Regions from separate parts of the Homo sapiens genome. Here region 2 is linked to region 1. The links come from fine-mapping of genetic effects on gene expression. A gene starts in region 1. The other region holds a variant in brackets. All regions are shown on one strand. Distances are from middle to middle.

Region 1 (8,372 bases):
TGATCCACCCACCTCGGCCTCCCAAAGTGGTGGAATTACAGCCGTGAGCCACCACGCCCGGCCTTCTTTCTGTATTCTGCATGATGAAAGGGACAAGGCAGATCTCTGGGGCCTCTTTTATAAGAGCACCAGTTCCACCACCCAAAGGCCACACCTCCTAATACCATCACATTGGTGATTCGCTTTTAACTTATGAGTTTTAGGGAGGACACAAACATTCAGACCATAGCGATGATTTTATAATAATGTGCATGTGGGGACTATTGACAAGAAGAGTTTATAAGTAAGCAAGACAAATTACTAAAGCAGAAACATCTGAGGAAAAGAGCCACAAGAGATATGGTACAACATAAATATGGACCACTCTACAATTTCCAAAAGCAGGAATAACAGTTATTATTTTTCCTCTGCTAGTAAAAAGAGAATTAAGAATAATTGATACATACGATTCTTCTATCTGTGTCTGATTCGTTGCTTTAGCATTACACATTTTGATCTAAAAGTCACTGTATTAAAAGAGATAGACTTATGGGATTGACTATAGGTCAATAACCATACTGATATTCACAAAGAGTTACGTAGTAAGGCCTGAGAAGCCCATGTGGATAAACTCACACATATCCTCCATTCCTGCTGTCACAGCCTCTTTATTTGTTGAAACAAGCACAGGGATAGCTGGGGAAAAGGCTAACAGAAGTCTTCTTGCTCAACTGCTTCTCAAAAGCCTCTTTAGAAGTGGTTGCCTTTGGTGAACATTCAAAAGGGAGCCCAATATGCACACTCTGCCCATTCGAAGTGGTTCAAGCACATCATTTCCCTAGACCTCATCATCAGCCCTCTGATATCATTCCTTCCAACTCTCTGAACATCAGCTGCATTGCCAGCCACTGGCTCTGTATAAGCCACTGAAGGAGGGGACTTTGGATCTTCTTGGGGTCCATGGTTAGGAAGTAAGTGACTAGGTTGCATAAGATGAATCTACTCCAATATTCCTGACTCCCTAAGTATTTTTGATTTCTTCATCTGCATTACTTGGCATTACATTTACATTTAGTGTGAGCTGCCACTGAGCTGATATTATAGTAAACCAACTGGGCAAACTGGCTTAGCGCTCCCACTGCTAGAGGCAGTACATCAACTTTCTTTCTTTTTTTTTTTTTTTTCTTGCTCTGTTGCCAGGCTGGAGTGCAGTGGCACGATCTTGGCTCATTGCAACCCCGACTCCCTGGTTCAAGCGATTCTCCTGCCTCAGCCTCCCAAGTAGCTGGGATTACAGGCACATGCCACCACGCCCAGCTAATTTTTGTATTTTTAGTAGAGACGTGGTTTCACCATGTTGGCCAGGATGGTCTCAATCTCCTGACCTCATGATCCGCCCACCTCGGCCTCCCAAAGTGCTGGGATTACAAGCATGAGCCACCGCGCTCAGCCTCAACTTTCAGCTTTCTTCACGTCATCTTTAGACTCATTGCCATGTCTATTTCTTGCTTTCTGTTGCTCTTTTGTTGTGTAAAGCATCACCCCTCCATCAGATCTTGTCCATATCCTCTTGGGGCGCATTAGCATCTGATTCTAGTTCTAGGAGTGAAGGCACAGGTAGAGATAGGATATTTGGAGAATCAGCACCTCCTTGCAGGGTGACTGTTTCATGCTTTTTAATGTAGGCTGTACCAGCCTTATCAGACAATGGTGGGAAGCCTGTGGAGACACAGCAGAATTTAGGAGGGCAGTGGCACTTGGATTCATTCAAATCCACCCAAATTCCCAGGGCTTCTTTCTTTCACAATCAATGCCCTCAGTGTTCACAGAAGAGACCTGATGAGGCTGCAAATGAAAATTTTTGTTGTAATTCTAGGCTGGGCGCGGTGGATCACGCCTGTAATCTCAGTACTTTGGAAGGCCGAGGTGGGGGAATCACTTGAGGTTAGGAGTTCCAAACCAGGCTGGCCAATATGGTGAAACCCCTTCTCTACTAAAAATACAAAAATTAGCTAGGTGCGGTGGCACACGCCTGTAATCCCAGTTACTTGGCAGGCTGAGGCAGGGAAATTGCTTGAGCCCGGGAGCCAGAGGTTGTAGTGAGCCAAGATTGTGCCACTGCACTCCAGCCTCGGCAACACAGCAAGACTCTGTCTCAAAACAATTATATTGTAATTCTGGTGCCTGCAGCACCAAGCTTTGCAGCTGAGAGCCCAGACAGTAGGGAATTGGGCTCCTCAGGGAGTCCAATATGCTCACACTTTACCCATTCCAAGAGGTTCACCCATATCATATCATTCCCCTGGACCTCATCACCAACCCTCTGATATCATTCCTTCCAAATCTTTCCCCAGCAGAGAAGGCAGATTTTTACATCACCCCTGAGGCTCCCTGAAATAGGAGGGTTTTCTGGTACAGTCATAAAAGCGTGTGTCCTCTGATCATGCTTAAGCTTGCCATTTTTCATTCTTTAAGCTCTCTTGGGCAGTTCAGGGGCTCAAAAAGTCAGAAAAACTTGTCCTTGCTACTGCCATTGCTGCTGCCACAGCCATCCCACACCCACAAAGCTGACAAATGGACACACAGCACTGTCAGAGTTTTCTTGTCACCTGGAAATGCCACAAAAAGATGGCTCTGCCTCATGTCTACCTTCTAAACCTCCCGCCAGTGCTTTACATATAGGGGACTTAAGCTATGCCCAGGACCAGAGCTACAAGGAAAGTGTAGATTTTAGTTGTTGATACCCTGCAATGTGGGGTTGTTGGGGGATGGAGAAGGGAGGCTGGAGAGGATGCCTGCCTAGGTGTAATTTTTTTTTTTTTTTTTTGAATTGGAGTCCCACTCTGTCACCCAGGCTGGAGTGTAGTGGCATGATCTCAGCTCACTACAATCTCTGCCTCCCAGGTTCAAGCAATTCTCCCTGCCTCAGCCTCTGGAGTAGCTGGGATTACAGGTGCCTGCCACCACGCCCAGCTAATTTTTGTGTTTTTTAGTAGAGACGGGGTTTTGCCATGTTGGCCAGGCTGGTCCTGAACTCCTGACCTCAGGTGATCCGCCCGTCTCAGCCTCCCAAATTTCTGGGATTACAGGCATGAGCCACCGCGCCGGCCTAGGCATAATATTTAATGTATATTTGAGGTCTGTCTTTGGACCACCTTCCTCTCTTATCCCAGCTAAGATACTGAGAGTACAAACTCCTGGTTATAATTCTAACTCCGCTGCTTACTACCTGTGTTAATCCAAATTCTCTGTGCCTCAATACTCATTAGTCACTGTGCCAATGAACTCTGGAACTCTGTGTGACTCTGGGAGTGTGTCGCAGTCCATCAGGTGAGTAGAATTTCTATAAATCGAGGACTACTGGTGTTGGACTATGGTAGGAAGCTCCCTGGGGTACTGTAGGAAGCAGGTGTCTCTATTTAGCAGCAGGACTGGCCCACAGGTGCTTTTACAGCGGCTGGCAAGTGTCTGCTCATGAATGAATGGATGGGTGGGAGCGGAGTGAAGGAGATTACGCCCCCAGGCCTCTGATCCCCAGGCTTGTAAAGGTGAGGGGGCCGCGGTGTGGCAAGAGGGAAAGAGTGCTTTGGTGTTTACAGGCCCCGACTTGAACTGAATCCTGGCTTTGCCACTTACGAGCGGCAGGACCCCTGGGTGAGTTCATTTACTCAGTTTCCTCTATTGTAGAATGGAGCTGGTAAGATCCATCTTCCCAACCCCACCCCAAATATTTGTGTTGAGAGTAAGTGGAACCCTTGATTCGAGAACCTAGTGCGGCCAGCGGACTAGGCCAGCGGAGAACCCTAGGAGCCCCGGGGGCGGGGGATGGGGGTGCAGGGTCCTGGCCGTGCAGGGGCAGCACGTGGGTGCCAAGCCCGCCTGCCGGTGCCAAGCCCGCCCGCCGGTGCCAAGCCCGCCCGCCAGTGCCTCTCGCGCGCACTCTGGATCCAGCGCCAATTTACCCCAATCCCGTAGCAGACGAGGGCTTGTGCGAGAGGGGGCCGGGCGGCTGCAGGGAAGGCGGAGTCCAAGGGGAAAACGAAACTGAGAACCAGCTCTCCCGAAGCCGCGGGTCTCCGGCCGGCGGCGGCGGCGGCGGCGGCGGCGGCGCAGGTGAGCAGGGCAGGGGGCAGCCGAGGGAGCGCGGGGAGCGGGGGCCGGGGGGCCACGTACGAGGGGCTGCAGGCCCAGCCGGGGCGGGACTCGCCAATCCTGCGTCCCCAGCTCAGGACGCGGACGCTGATCCGAAGCCCCTGGCCCCGGCTGGGTCAGCACTGGGAGAGCAGGCCCAGGTCCGCAGCCCGGGTGTGGGGCCCTCCCCAAATCCAGGGAAAGGATCGTGGAGCGGGGTGGGGACTGAAAGCCATTTCCTTCCCGTGAAGAATTTTTATCAGTGCAAGTAACAAATATTTCCCAGGCAGCAGTTGTGGGGCGGGGTCTAGTGGAAGACGAATAGGCCTAGTGGCTTGACACATGGAAAATACGGAGGCCTGAAATACTCATAGACTGGCTGAACAATCTTTGGCTAAAAATCTCTTCCGTGGAGAGTTGCAGTAGTTTCCCAATTGCCTGGCCGCAGTTCCTGTTCCCACTCCGTATCCTCACCCCTGAACCTCCACCCCCTACCTCTTCTCCACACCTCAGCATCTGGAATGTTCCTTTAAGTAAGAACCAGACTCTCCCCTGCTCCGACCTTCCCCGTAGCTTTCCTGTCTCATCAGAATCCTATAAACATTTATTAAGGCTCACAGGCAAGGCCCCTCGCACCCCCTACTCCGGCCACGCTGGCTTCCTTGCTGTTCCTGGTGCACAGCCAAGCATCCTCCAGCCTCTAGGCCTTTGCACTGCTTGTTTCTTCTTTCTGGAAAGCTTCTTCCCCAGATAACTGCATGGGGAAATCCCTCCCTTATCCTGCACTGCTTCCCATGCCAGCTTATCAGAGCAGCCTTCCTCAAACAACCTGCCTATACAAGAAACCCCGCTCTGCCCTTGCTGTTCCCCCTTCCACTACTTCGGTTGTCAACATAGTAGTTATCACCTGGTGACATTTTCTTTCTTTTCTTTTCTTTTTTTTTTTTTTTGAGACAGATTCTCACTCTGTCGCCAGGCTGGAATGCAGTGGCACGATCTGGGCTCACTGCAACCTCTGCCTCTCAGGTTCAAGCGATTTTCCTTCCTCAGCCTCCCAGGTAGCTGGGACTACAGGTGCCCGCCAGCACAGCCAACTAATTTTTTTATTTTTAGTAGAGACAGGGTTTCACCGTGTTGGCCAGGCTGTATGTAGTCTGCTGGAAAGGAAGTGGAGGCATAGCCAAAATAATTTCTGGGCATTAGTAAGATGGACAAATATTATTTTTTAGTGATTATGATGGAGGTTTCTTCCAGATGAGTGAATAAGATGTAGAATCTGCTCCCCAAAGAGCTCACTAATTAGTTTAAAAAGCAGTCAGGGCTGTGTTGAAGGTTGGGCAAGGTGGAGTGGCAAGCCCATACTAGCTGACCCTCCAGCATCAAAGAAGGCTGTGTTGATCCTGATAGATGAGTGGATATTGGTGGGTACAGAGAGAATGCAGATATTGCACTATAAATGTAGAGAAAAGCAGGTGACAAGTCCTGGATGGGGTATCTGGAGATATTTTGGTACTCACTCATTCATTATTGAGCCTGGTCCCTTACCTGTAGTAATTCATGCTCTATTTTGGAAAATAGTTAAATAAGCAATTTTAATAAAGGGGATGAGCACTGTGGAAGAGCCTGTGAAGGAGTGTCTGGGATTTTGAGCTGAAATCTGTAGGAAGTAGAAATTGACCAGGCCAAGACAGCAGAAGGAATAGAGTCAAGGGCATTTTAGGAGGGAGCAGGTTGGACAGAGGCAGTTGGGAGTTCAGGAGAGAGTCCATGGTGGAAGCGTGCTTTTGAGAACCATCATTGTGTCCGTGGAATTTAAAGCCACAAACCTGGAGGTGATCACCAGGGGAGTGAGTCCAAGTAGAAAAGAGCAAGTCTAAGGACCGGGCCCAGTGATGCTAGAATATCTAGAAAAGAGGAAGTTAGAACCATAGAAAAGGTTAAAAAAAAAAAAATAGAAGAAAAGAAGTTGAAGATGAACCAGGAAAGGAGACAGAAAAGGAGTAGCTTGTCAGAACAGAAGAAAACCAGGCCCAGGTGCCATGGCTCATGCCTGTAATCGCAGCACTTTGGGAGGCCAAGGTGGGTGGATCACCTGAGGTCAGGAGTTTGAGACCAGCCTGGCCAACATGGGGAAACCCCGTCTCTACTAAAAATATAAAAAATTAGCCGGGCGTGGTGGTGGGCGCCTGTAATCCCAGCTACTCGGAATGCTGAGGCAGGAGAATCGCTTGAACCCGGGAGGCAGAGGTTGCAGCGAGCCGAGATGCCACCATCACACTCCAGCCTGGGCAACAAGAGCGAAACTCTGTCTCAAAAGAAGAAAACTAGGAGAGTGGGTGTCTTAAAAGTCCAAGCTAAGACAGGGAGAGGAGGGCGAAGAGGATGCGCAACCCCATCAAATGCTGGTTGTAAGTCAAGTAGAGAAGGACTAAGAACTGACTACTGGATTTAGTGATAGGGAAGCCATTGGTAACCTCGACAAAAACAATTTCAGTGGCTTGTGGAGACTGCATGATTGAATTGATGTTTTTTTGTTTGTTTGTTTTGTTTTTGTTTTTTTTTTTGAGACGGAGTTTCGCTCTTGTTGCCCAGGCTGGAGTGCAATGGCACGATCTCAGCTCACCGCAACCTCCACCTCCTGGGTTCAAGCGATTCTCCTTCCTCAGCATCCCGAGTAGCTGGGATTACAGGCATGTGCCACCACCCCGGCTAATTTTGTATTTTTAGTAGAGATGGGGTTTCTCCATGTTGGTCAGGCTGGTCTTGAAGTCCCGACCTCAGGTGATCTGCCCGCCTTGGCCTCCCAAAGTGCTGGGATTACAGGTGTGAGCCACCGCGCCTGGCCACTGAATTGATGTTTTAAAAAGATCATGATGTGGCTGTATTAAAAAAGAAAACAGATAATAACAAGTGATGGTGAGGATGTGGAGAAATTAGAACCCTCGTGCATTGCTGGTGGAAATGTAACATGGGTGTAACCACTGTGGAAAACAATTTGGTGATTCATCACAAAGTTAAACAGAATTATCATGTGATTCAATTCCACTTATATACCACAAATATTCAGAAGTAGGGACTTAAACAGATATATGTATACCAGTGTTCACAGCAGCATGATTCAAGATGGCCAAAAGGTTGAAATAACCAGTGTCCATTCATAAATGAATGCATGAACAAAATATGGTATATATACACAACGGAATATTATTCAGCCTTAAAAAGGAAAGGAATTCTGACATATGCTACAACATAGATGAACCTTGAAGACATTTTGCTAAGTGAAATAACCAGACACAAAAGGACAAATACTGTTTGATTCCACTTATATGAGGTACCTAGAACAGGCAAATTTACAGAGACAGAAGAGAGATTAGAAAATATAAAAAATTAACCAGGCATGCCCACGCCTATGGTCCCAGCTACTCGGGAGGCTGAGGTGGGAGGATCGCTTGAGCCCAGAGTTCAAGGCTGCAGTAAGCTGTGATCACACCACTGCACTCCAGCCTGGGCAACAGAGCGAGACCCTGTCTCAAAAAAAAAAAAAAAAAAAAAGATTAGCAGAGACTGAAAGGACTGGGAAATGGGGAGTTACTGTTTAATGGGTACACACTTTCTGTTTGGAAAGATTAAGAGTTGTGGATGTGGATGTGGTGGCGGCTACACAACATTGTGAATGTACTTAAAGGCAGGGAATTAATACATTGAAAAATAGTACATTTCATGTTATGTGTATTTTATCACAATTTTAAAACATAAAAAAAAAAATCACAATGGTTGCAGGGTAGAGAAGGAATTGAAGTAGCTGTCGGAACTGGTTCTGAGATTCTCACAGCAATCCAGGAATGAGGTGGTGTTGGCTTGAACTAGGATGGTAAGTGTAGACATCTTTGAGAAGTAGAAAGATTTTGGTGACAGGACTTAGTTATAGATTAGAAGGCAGGGAGAGGAAATGTCAAGGATGCCTCCCAGATTGATGGCTTTCAGACTTGGATAGATGGTGGACTCATTTCCTGTGAAAGGAAACTTCAAACCAGCTTGGGAGAAGATCATACATGCAGTACAGGATATTTTGAGTTTAAAGTTCGTTCAAGATGTTCAAGTGGAGAATTTGGATAGAGAGATCTGAAACTCAGAGCGGTTCATAAGGAATATGTAAACTTTAGAGGTAATGGCGTATAGATGATCACTGAAATCATGGACGTGAAAGAAATCACCTTAAGGAGAAAGTATAGAGTGAAGAGAAGAGGATTGTTGGGCCATGC
Region 2 (8,372 bases), 37 kb after region 1:
CGCGCCATTGCACTCCAGCCTGGGCGACAAAGCAAGACTCTTCTCAAAAAAAATGACTGGCTGGGTGCAGTGGCTCAGGCCTGTAATCCTACCACTTTGAGAGGCCAAGGCTGGTGGATCACTTGAGGTCAGGAGTGCGAGACCAACCTGGGCAACATGGAGAAACCCTGTCTCTACAAAAAATATAAAAACTAGCCAAGTGTGGTGGTGTGTGCCTGTGGTCCTAGCTACTAGGGAGGCTGAGGTAGGAGGATCGCTTGAGCCCTAGGGGTGGAGGTTGCAGTGAGCCAACATTGCCACTGCACTCCAGCCTGGGTGACAGAGTGAGACCCTGTCTCAAAAAAAAAAGGAAGAATCTAAAATAACATTATTTTAGGATTGTCAAAGTATCAGTAATTTTTTTTATTTTTGCAAATTTGTGTCATATACTTTAAAACTTCTTGCATTAAAAAATAAAATTGTAAAATGATTATTCTTCCTCATCTTTGAAATCTCCAATTTATTTACTGCACTTAGCATGGAATTTTCTTAGGTCTTGGCAACACATCCCTGTAAAGCCTTCCACCATTTCACCTTCTCTGCATAAGTTATCCTCTTTGTGTATATTTGCCACACATTGAAAATCCTGAATTAGGTACTTCACACTGCCTGGGTTACCTAGCCTTGCTGCCTAAATGTGGTTTGCTTGTGAAATACAAAGATTTTAACACAAATCTAAGCAAAACATAATGTATGATTTAGCTATGAAAAATTGCACTGGCTGGGTCCATTGGCTCATGCTTGCAATCCCAGCACTTTGGGAGGCTGAGGCAGGTGGATTGCTAGATCCCAGGAGTTTGAGACCAGCATGGGCAGCGTGGCAAAACCCCATCTCTACAGAAAATAGAAAAAATTAGATGGGTGTGGTGGTGTGCTCCTGTGGTCCCAGCTACTCAGGAGACTGAGGTGGGAGAATTGTTTGAGGCTAGAAGGTTGAGGCTGCAATGAGCCAAGATTGTGCCACTGCACTCCAACCTGGGTGACAGAGCAAGACTCTGTCTCAATAAAATAAATAAATTAATTAAAATGACATCACTGGCATTTCAAGAGTACTACAGATGATTTTTAAATTGTCTGATGCTTGGCATTAAGTCGCTGCCTTTTATTTATTTATTTTTTGAGACAGAGTCTTGCTCTTTTGCCCAGGCTGGAGTGCAGTGGTGCAATCTTGGCTCACTGCAACCTCCGCCTCCTGGATTCAAGCGATTCTCCTGCCTCAGCCTCCCAAGTAGCTGGGATTACAGACATGCGCCACTGTGCCCAGCTAAATTTTTTGTATTTTTAGTAGAGATGGGGTTTCACCATGTTGGTCAGGCTGGTCTTGAACTCCTGACCTCGTGATCCGCCCACCTTCGCCTCCCAAAGTGCTGGGATTACAGGCCTGAGCCACCGCGCCCGGCCACTGCCTTTTATTTTATCTTGAGAGTGAGAACTGCTATGTTTTTTTTCAGTATGTTCACTTTTTCCTTTTGAATGTCCTGGCTTCCATTCTAAAACTATGTGAGAACCACAGCAATGGTTTAATAAGGGAATGTAGACAGTTGTCTATTACATGAGGTGTTTTGTGGTTGTTATGAGGGATGTACACTGACACTGCCATGTTCCCTGTTCCTTTTAACTAGGAAGGCGGAGCGTGAAGTAAAAGCATTGGCAAAACTTGATCATGTAAATATTGTTCACTACAATGGCTGTTGGGATGGATTTGATTATGATCCTGAGACCAGTGATGATTCTCTTGAGAGCAGTGATTATGATCCTGAGAACAGCAAAAATAGTTCAAGGTAACTAAAAATAAATTCTCATAGCCATAATAGGATGGAAGGAAATTGTTATTTACTATGTATGGGCCACTGGATAAGGCTATTAATCATCACGATTAATTATCACAATTCCCTCTGAGAGACACTGTTATCTCTCCATTCCGAAGGTAAGGAGAAAGTGAAAATCTCTTCCTTGCTCCTCCTCTTGCTGCAGACTTGCTCTCACAACCCTCTGTTACATCCTCAGCTGTCTGCAAAATCTCAGGTTCAGCTTTCCTGACTCCATTGTTTCATGGAGAGCCTTGTTCACGTGCCGGCTTCAGCGCAGGCTGTTTAAGTGTAGTCTTGTGAAGAGAGTTTTAACATATAGATGCTGCATCTGGGGGCTCCCTCCTCAGCTACCAACACTTTTCTGTCCCTCTCTTAGGCTGTGATTGGTGTGGTGCCGTCAGAGGGTCTCTTTGGAATGTAACTATACCACTTATGCTGGGGTGGTGGGGAGTGAAAATATTTTTAAGACCACAAGCTGAGATGGGGGCACCCTCATGTTTTATGTCAGTTAAGCCATTGCCAAACAACTGGAGATCCTAAAGAGCTGGCATCTGTCTTTGAAAGTCACCCAACCTATTATGGGGACAGTCCTCTCACTAAAATCCTGAGGCCAATGGGGTCCCATTCATTCATTTTCTCCTGCCCCACCTCCATCTCCATGTCGTGTAAGTGAGAACATTATCATCAGTTCAGGAGTTATTGACCGTCAGCATACAGGACTTCAGCTTTCAGCAAATTCTTGGCTACCTCTTCCTGTTTTCAAGCTGACATATATACAAAGAATATAAATGAATATTGAGGCTAACTTAATTCAGAAAAAAAATAAAACGTGGTTAGCAAAAAAAAAAAAAAAAAAAATCAAGCCTCCAATTTATGTATCTTAGTAATTTGTTGGCACTTCTCTTAGAGTACCTTCCCTATTGTTTTAGGTTTGCTTTCCCTTTACTCTCTCCTATTAGACTATTATCCCCGTGACGGCAAGGATATAGTGTCTAACTGATTTTCTCATCTCTAGGTGCCTTTCATGCTTAGTAGATCAATGGTGAATTAAAAGGTTTCAAAGTTACTTTATATAATAATGAAATTTAGTTTCCTGCATTGTATTCATGTTCCTATTTCTATCTGTTAGCAATGGTGATTGCAGATCTTCAGCAATGAAGAATGGGTGGCTCATTTTTTTTTTCTTCTCGTTTTTTTTTTTTTTTTTTTTTTTGAGACGGTGTCTCGCACTGTCGCACAGGCTGGAGTGCAGTGGTGCAATCTTGGCTCACTGCAAGCTCTGCCTCCCGGATTCACAGTATTCTCCTGCCTCAGTCTCCTGAGTAGCTGGGACTACAGGCGCCCGCCACCACGCCCGGCTAATTTTTTGTATTTTTAGTAGAGACGGGATTTCACCGTGTTAGCCAGGATGGTCTTGATCTCCTGACCTCGTGATCCACCCGCCTCGGCCTCCCAAAGTGCTGGGATTACATGCGTGAGCCACCGCGCCCGGCCTCTTCTTTTTTTTTTTTTGAGACAGAGTCTTACTCTATCGCTCATGCGGGAGCACAATGGCGTGATCTCAGCTTACTGCAATCTCTGCCTTCTGGGTTCAAATGATTCTCGTGCCTCATCCTCCCGAGTAGCTGAGACTACAGGTGCCGCGCCACCACACCCAGCTAATTTTTGTGTTTTTAGTAGAGATGGGGTTTCGCCATGCTGCCCAGGCTGGTCTCAAACTCCTGAGCTCAAGCAATCCGCCAGTCTCGGCCTCCCAAGGTGCTAGGATTATAGGCGTGAGCCACCGTGCCCAGCCCAGCTCATATTTTATAAATTAGCTAAACAAATAAAGCTCTGGACATCCGGGAACTTATGATTGAAATAAAAAATGGCCTATTATATTTTGATTCAAATTTGTTTATTATATTTAGATTTCTATTTTGTGACATGTTTTGGGGTTCTTTTTTTTTCTTTTTTTTTTTTTTTTTGTGAGACGGAATCTCGCTCTGTCACCCAGGCTGGAGTGCAGTGGCGTGATCTCGGCTCACTGCAAGCTCCGCCTACCGGGTTCACGCCATTCTCTTGCCTCAGCCTCCCCGGAGTAGCTGGG[A/G]CTACAGGCGCCCGCCACCACGCCTGGCTAATTTTTTGTATTTTTAGTAGAGACGGGGTTTCACCGTGGTCTCGATCTCCTGACCTCGTGATCCGCCCGCCTCGGCCTCCCAAAGTGTTTTTGGGGTTCTTAAGAAGATAAGGTATAAGCTTTTAAAAAGTTATGAAAAACTTTAAAAAGTTATAAAAAATTTTTTATAAATTTATATTTATTGTTACTTTTAACATACTGTGAATTTTATACCCAGGTCAAAGACTAAGTGCCTTTTCATCCAAATGGAATTCTGTGATAAAGGGACCTTGGAACAATGGATTGAAAAAAGAAGAGGCGAGAAACTAGACAAAGTTTTGGCTTTGGAACTCTTTGAACAAATAACAAAAGGGGTGGATTATATACATTCAAAAAAATTAATTCATAGAGATCTTAAGGTAAGTGGAAAATGTACTTTATTAATTGATATATATATAATATAGTAATTTTAAAATATATCTTCTCAGCTGGGCACAGTGGCTCACGCCTATAATCTCAACACTTTGGGAGGCTGAGGCAGGCAGATCATCTGAGGTCATGAGTTCGAAACCAGTCTGGCCAACATGGTGAAACCGTGTCTCTACTAAAAATACAAAAATTAGCTGGGCATGGTGGCGTGCGCCTGTAATCCCAGCTACTCGGGAGGCTGAGGCAGGAGATTCGCTTGAACCTGGGAGGTGGAGGTTGCAGTGAGCCAAGATTGTGCCACTGCACTCCAGCCTAGGTGAAGAGTGAGACTTGTCTCAAAAAAAAAAATTATATATATATATAAAATAAGATAGATAGATATATATTTTTTTCTCTAGTTTTAGAATAGTGGTTGATTGATAGTTATGAGAAAATGGTATCTGAACATTTCCATGCAAATAATTACTGTGACTGGCACAGCCAACTGGCTGCTCTGCCCCTGTTCCTCCTGCCTCCTCTAAGTGACTCAGCTTTATTTGAGAGGCAGAGGGGACTCTGTTGACTGTTGCTTTAGGAATATGGTTCCCTAATCTCTCAGTCATTACTCGCGAGGGCTGTCACAGCTACTGGGTCCAGAGTCTAATACTGTCTTGGTTAAGCATTTCAACCCCATGATTGGAAAATTGCGGTAATCCCGGACTGGGAAAGTGTATCATCCCTTAGTATTTTCATTTTCCTCTGGCTTTTATGGTCCGGACAAGGAGTTTCCCTATTTTTTACTTCTCATTAAAATGACAGAAGGTGAGAGACAGAATAGCCCTTCACAGCCTTTCCTCCATTCCCTATTCCCTGTGACTTGCCTAAGCCTGTCACAAGCTGGCCGTCCTGAATCCTGTCCCTGGACCTTTGCTCATGTTCTTCTCTCTCATGGGACACTCTTCTGCCTGCCCCCTTTGGTTGTAATTCCTTTACTGAGCCTTTCCTGATCACTCTGGAACTGCCTTTTTCTGTTCTAGGCAGAAGTACCTTATTTATGTGGCTATCTGCTTATCCCACCCCTCTAAAACAGCAAGGAATAAGGAATGAAACAAAAAAATTCCTTGAGAGAAATAAGTTCCCATATACACAGTTGTTTATTGGGCTCAGAGAGGAATGAGTAGCCCTTAAAAGGTATTGCTTCCGTGGTCTGCCCAGGGGCTGGATGTCTGATGCATTGGTGTTTTGAGTCTGTCTGGTTCCAATATGTCTCTTCTACAATATCTGAAGTTGTTCTTTGAAGGTGGAACATTGTCAGAACTATTTCAAAAGGATAAATGTAGAGTTGGTTATGCTTTCACTTTGGGATAAATCATACATATAGTTAAATAACAAATAAGCACAATTATTTCTATATAAAATAATTTGCAAATAAATGCAGAAGTGTAGGCATTAAGCTCCTAGTCCTCAGAATGAATTAGCAAAATTCTGACTGGTGCCTACCCACTTACCTGCCAACTATGCCCCACACCGTGTGTGCCCTGTGTCATGGACTGATCTTTTCTTGTGTCTATTTGCAGAGAATTTTTACTCTGGCTGCAGTTGCTCAAGGGTCAGACTTTATTATTCTTCTTAAATTTTTAATTTTTATTTTTTTTTGAGACAAGGTCTTGCTCTTTTGCCCAGGCTGGAGTGCAGTGGCACAATCACGGCTCATTACAGCCTTGACCTCCTGGGCTCAAGCAGTCCTCCCACCTCAGCCTCCCGTATAGCTGGGACCACAGGTGTACACCACCACACCTGGCCATTTTTGTGTGTTTTTTTTTTGTAGAGACAGGGTCTCACCATGTTTCCGAGGCTGGTCTCAAACTTTTAGACTCAAAGTGATCCTCCTGCCTCAGCCTCCCAAAGTGCTGGCATTCCAGGTGTGCTCCACTGCACCCGGCCTCAAGCTTTGATACTGAGACTTCTTTCATCTTCTATAACTTTTCAGGCTCTCACTACTACAGTTGTTGATTTCTCTCCTCTAAGAAAAGATACAATGAAGGTGTACAATTTTGGGGTTGTGTTTTGCAAAATAGCAGCTGTAGGTGGTTTTGCCAGAGAATGGTCTTTACCTAACACAGCCCCTCTTACAAAAGTCTCCAAGTGTTTACCACTTTCTGTTGGAATCTTAGGAACTAGACCAAAGGCGCTGGGAAGGGACATAGGGGTTTCTGGAGTGAGGGCTTCTTGTGCAAGGCTGCTTCTCTCTAAAATGTTCAGTCTCCTAAAGCCCAGGCTCTGGTCATCCTCAGCCTGAGCATCAGTCCTGTTCCTGTGCCTCCTAGGTGAAGTTTGCATCCCTTTTATATGATCTACAGCCCTATATTTTGTCTAATCATATTATAACTGATTAGACAAAATGTGGCATTATTGTTTTTATTTCTTTTGTGTTTTACAAGGTCTCACTCTGTTGCCCAGGCTGGAGTGCAGTTGTATGATCTCAGCTCACTGCAGCCTGGACCTCCTAGGCTCAAGCAATCCTCCCACCTCGGCCCCCCACATAGCTGGGACTACAGGTGCAGGCTACCAAGGCAGGCTAATTTTTGACATTTTGTGGAGACAGGATTTTGCCATGTTGCCCTGGTTGGTCTCGAACTCCTGAGCTCAAGTGATCTGCCGACCTTGGCTTCCCAAAGTGTTGGGATTACAGGCATGAGCCACCATACCCAGCTTCTTTTTCTTTTCTTTTTTTCTTTTTTCTTTTTTTTTTTTTTTTGAGACAGAGTCTCCTCTGTTGCCCAGGCTGGAGTGCAGTGGAGTGATCTCGGCTCACTGCAGCCTCTGACTCCTGGGTTCACGAGATTCTCCTGCGTCAGCCTCTCGAGTATCTGGGATTACAGGCGCCTGCCATGATGCCCAGATAATTTTTTGTATTTTTAGTAGAGACAGGGTTTCACCATGTTGGCAAGGTTGGCCTTGGACTGATGGGCCCACGCTGTCTGCCCGCTTCAGCCTCCCAAAGTGCTGGGATTACAGGTGTGACTCACCACGCCCTGCCCACTTTTTCTTTTGAATGAACTACAAAAAGTGATCTGATATTTTCACTAGATAGCCTCATCCAGCTTAGATATTTACACGGCTTCACAAATTCAATTTTCTGTTTCTTAGAGTCAGGTGATAGCCTTATGTGGGACTAGCAGTTTCACTTGCAATCCTGACATATTCCTACACATTGCAACTTGAACATAGCATAGGAATGTTTTCTCTCCACATCCACTCCACATCTGTCTACAGCTTTCCATCTGTATTACTGGTGTTAGGCTCCAATCTGACTGTTAATTGAATTCTAATCCAACTGCTAATTGCTGTATGAGCCGTCATCTCAAGCTGGCTTCTCGGAAGCTCCTCCTTCAGCCTTCCCTGGGCTTATGGTCTCTTCCCTCTTAGGTCCTTACTAGGTAGGCCCTCTCATAAGTGTGTTATCCCGTAGAGTCTGTGTGTTTAGCCTAAGATTGTATTAAAAGTCCAGCCTTTTCAAAAATAGCAAAATATTAATTTTCTCATCAACTACCTTCCTGTTTTTGTGGTCTTTAGAATATTGGTCAGTAGAGCTGGGTGTGGTGGCCTGTGGTCCCAGCTACTTGGGAGGCTGAGGTGGGAGGATCGCTTGAGCTGAGGAAGTCAAGGCTGCAGTGAGCCATGATCATGCCACTGAAATCCATCCTGGATAACAAAATGAGACACTGTCTCAAAAACAAACAAAAATAATATTGGTCAATACCTCCTATGGGCTGGGCGTGGTGGCTCATGCCTGTAACCTCAGCACTTTGGGAGGCTGAGGTGAGCAGATTGCTTGAGGTCAGGAGTTTGAGACCAATCTGGCCAACATGGTGAAAATCTGTCTCTACTAAAAATACAAAAAAATTAGCCAAGCGTTGTGGCACATGCCTGTAATCCCAGCTCCTCGGGAGGCTGAGGCAGGAGAATTGCTTGAACCCAGGAAGCAGAGGTTGTGGTGAGCCGAGATCATGCCA

The links.
Region 2: its variant is fine-mapped to the expression of EIF2AK2 in whole blood (TOPMed, PIP 0.94).

Annotation. Positions count from the first base shown.
Region 1 is chr2:37,152,628-37,160,999 of GRCh38, reverse strand. It overlaps EIF2AK2 (eukaryotic translation initiation factor 2 alpha kinase 2), which reads left to right and starts at 4,020. Exons shown (of 17, transcript NM_001135651.3): 1 at 4,020-4,092. RefSeq lists silencers at 3,721-3,910, 4,111-4,230 and an enhancer at 3,961-4,090.
Region 2 is chr2:37,115,954-37,124,325 of GRCh38, reverse strand. EIF2AK2 (eukaryotic translation initiation factor 2 alpha kinase 2) reads left to right here. Exons shown (of 17, transcript NM_001135651.3): 12 at 1,662-1,820; 13 at 4,187-4,367. Among named protein-coding and RNA genes, the nearest start is that of GPATCH11, 36 kb to the right of the region's middle. The variant A/G (reference allele first, on the strand shown) is at 3,940.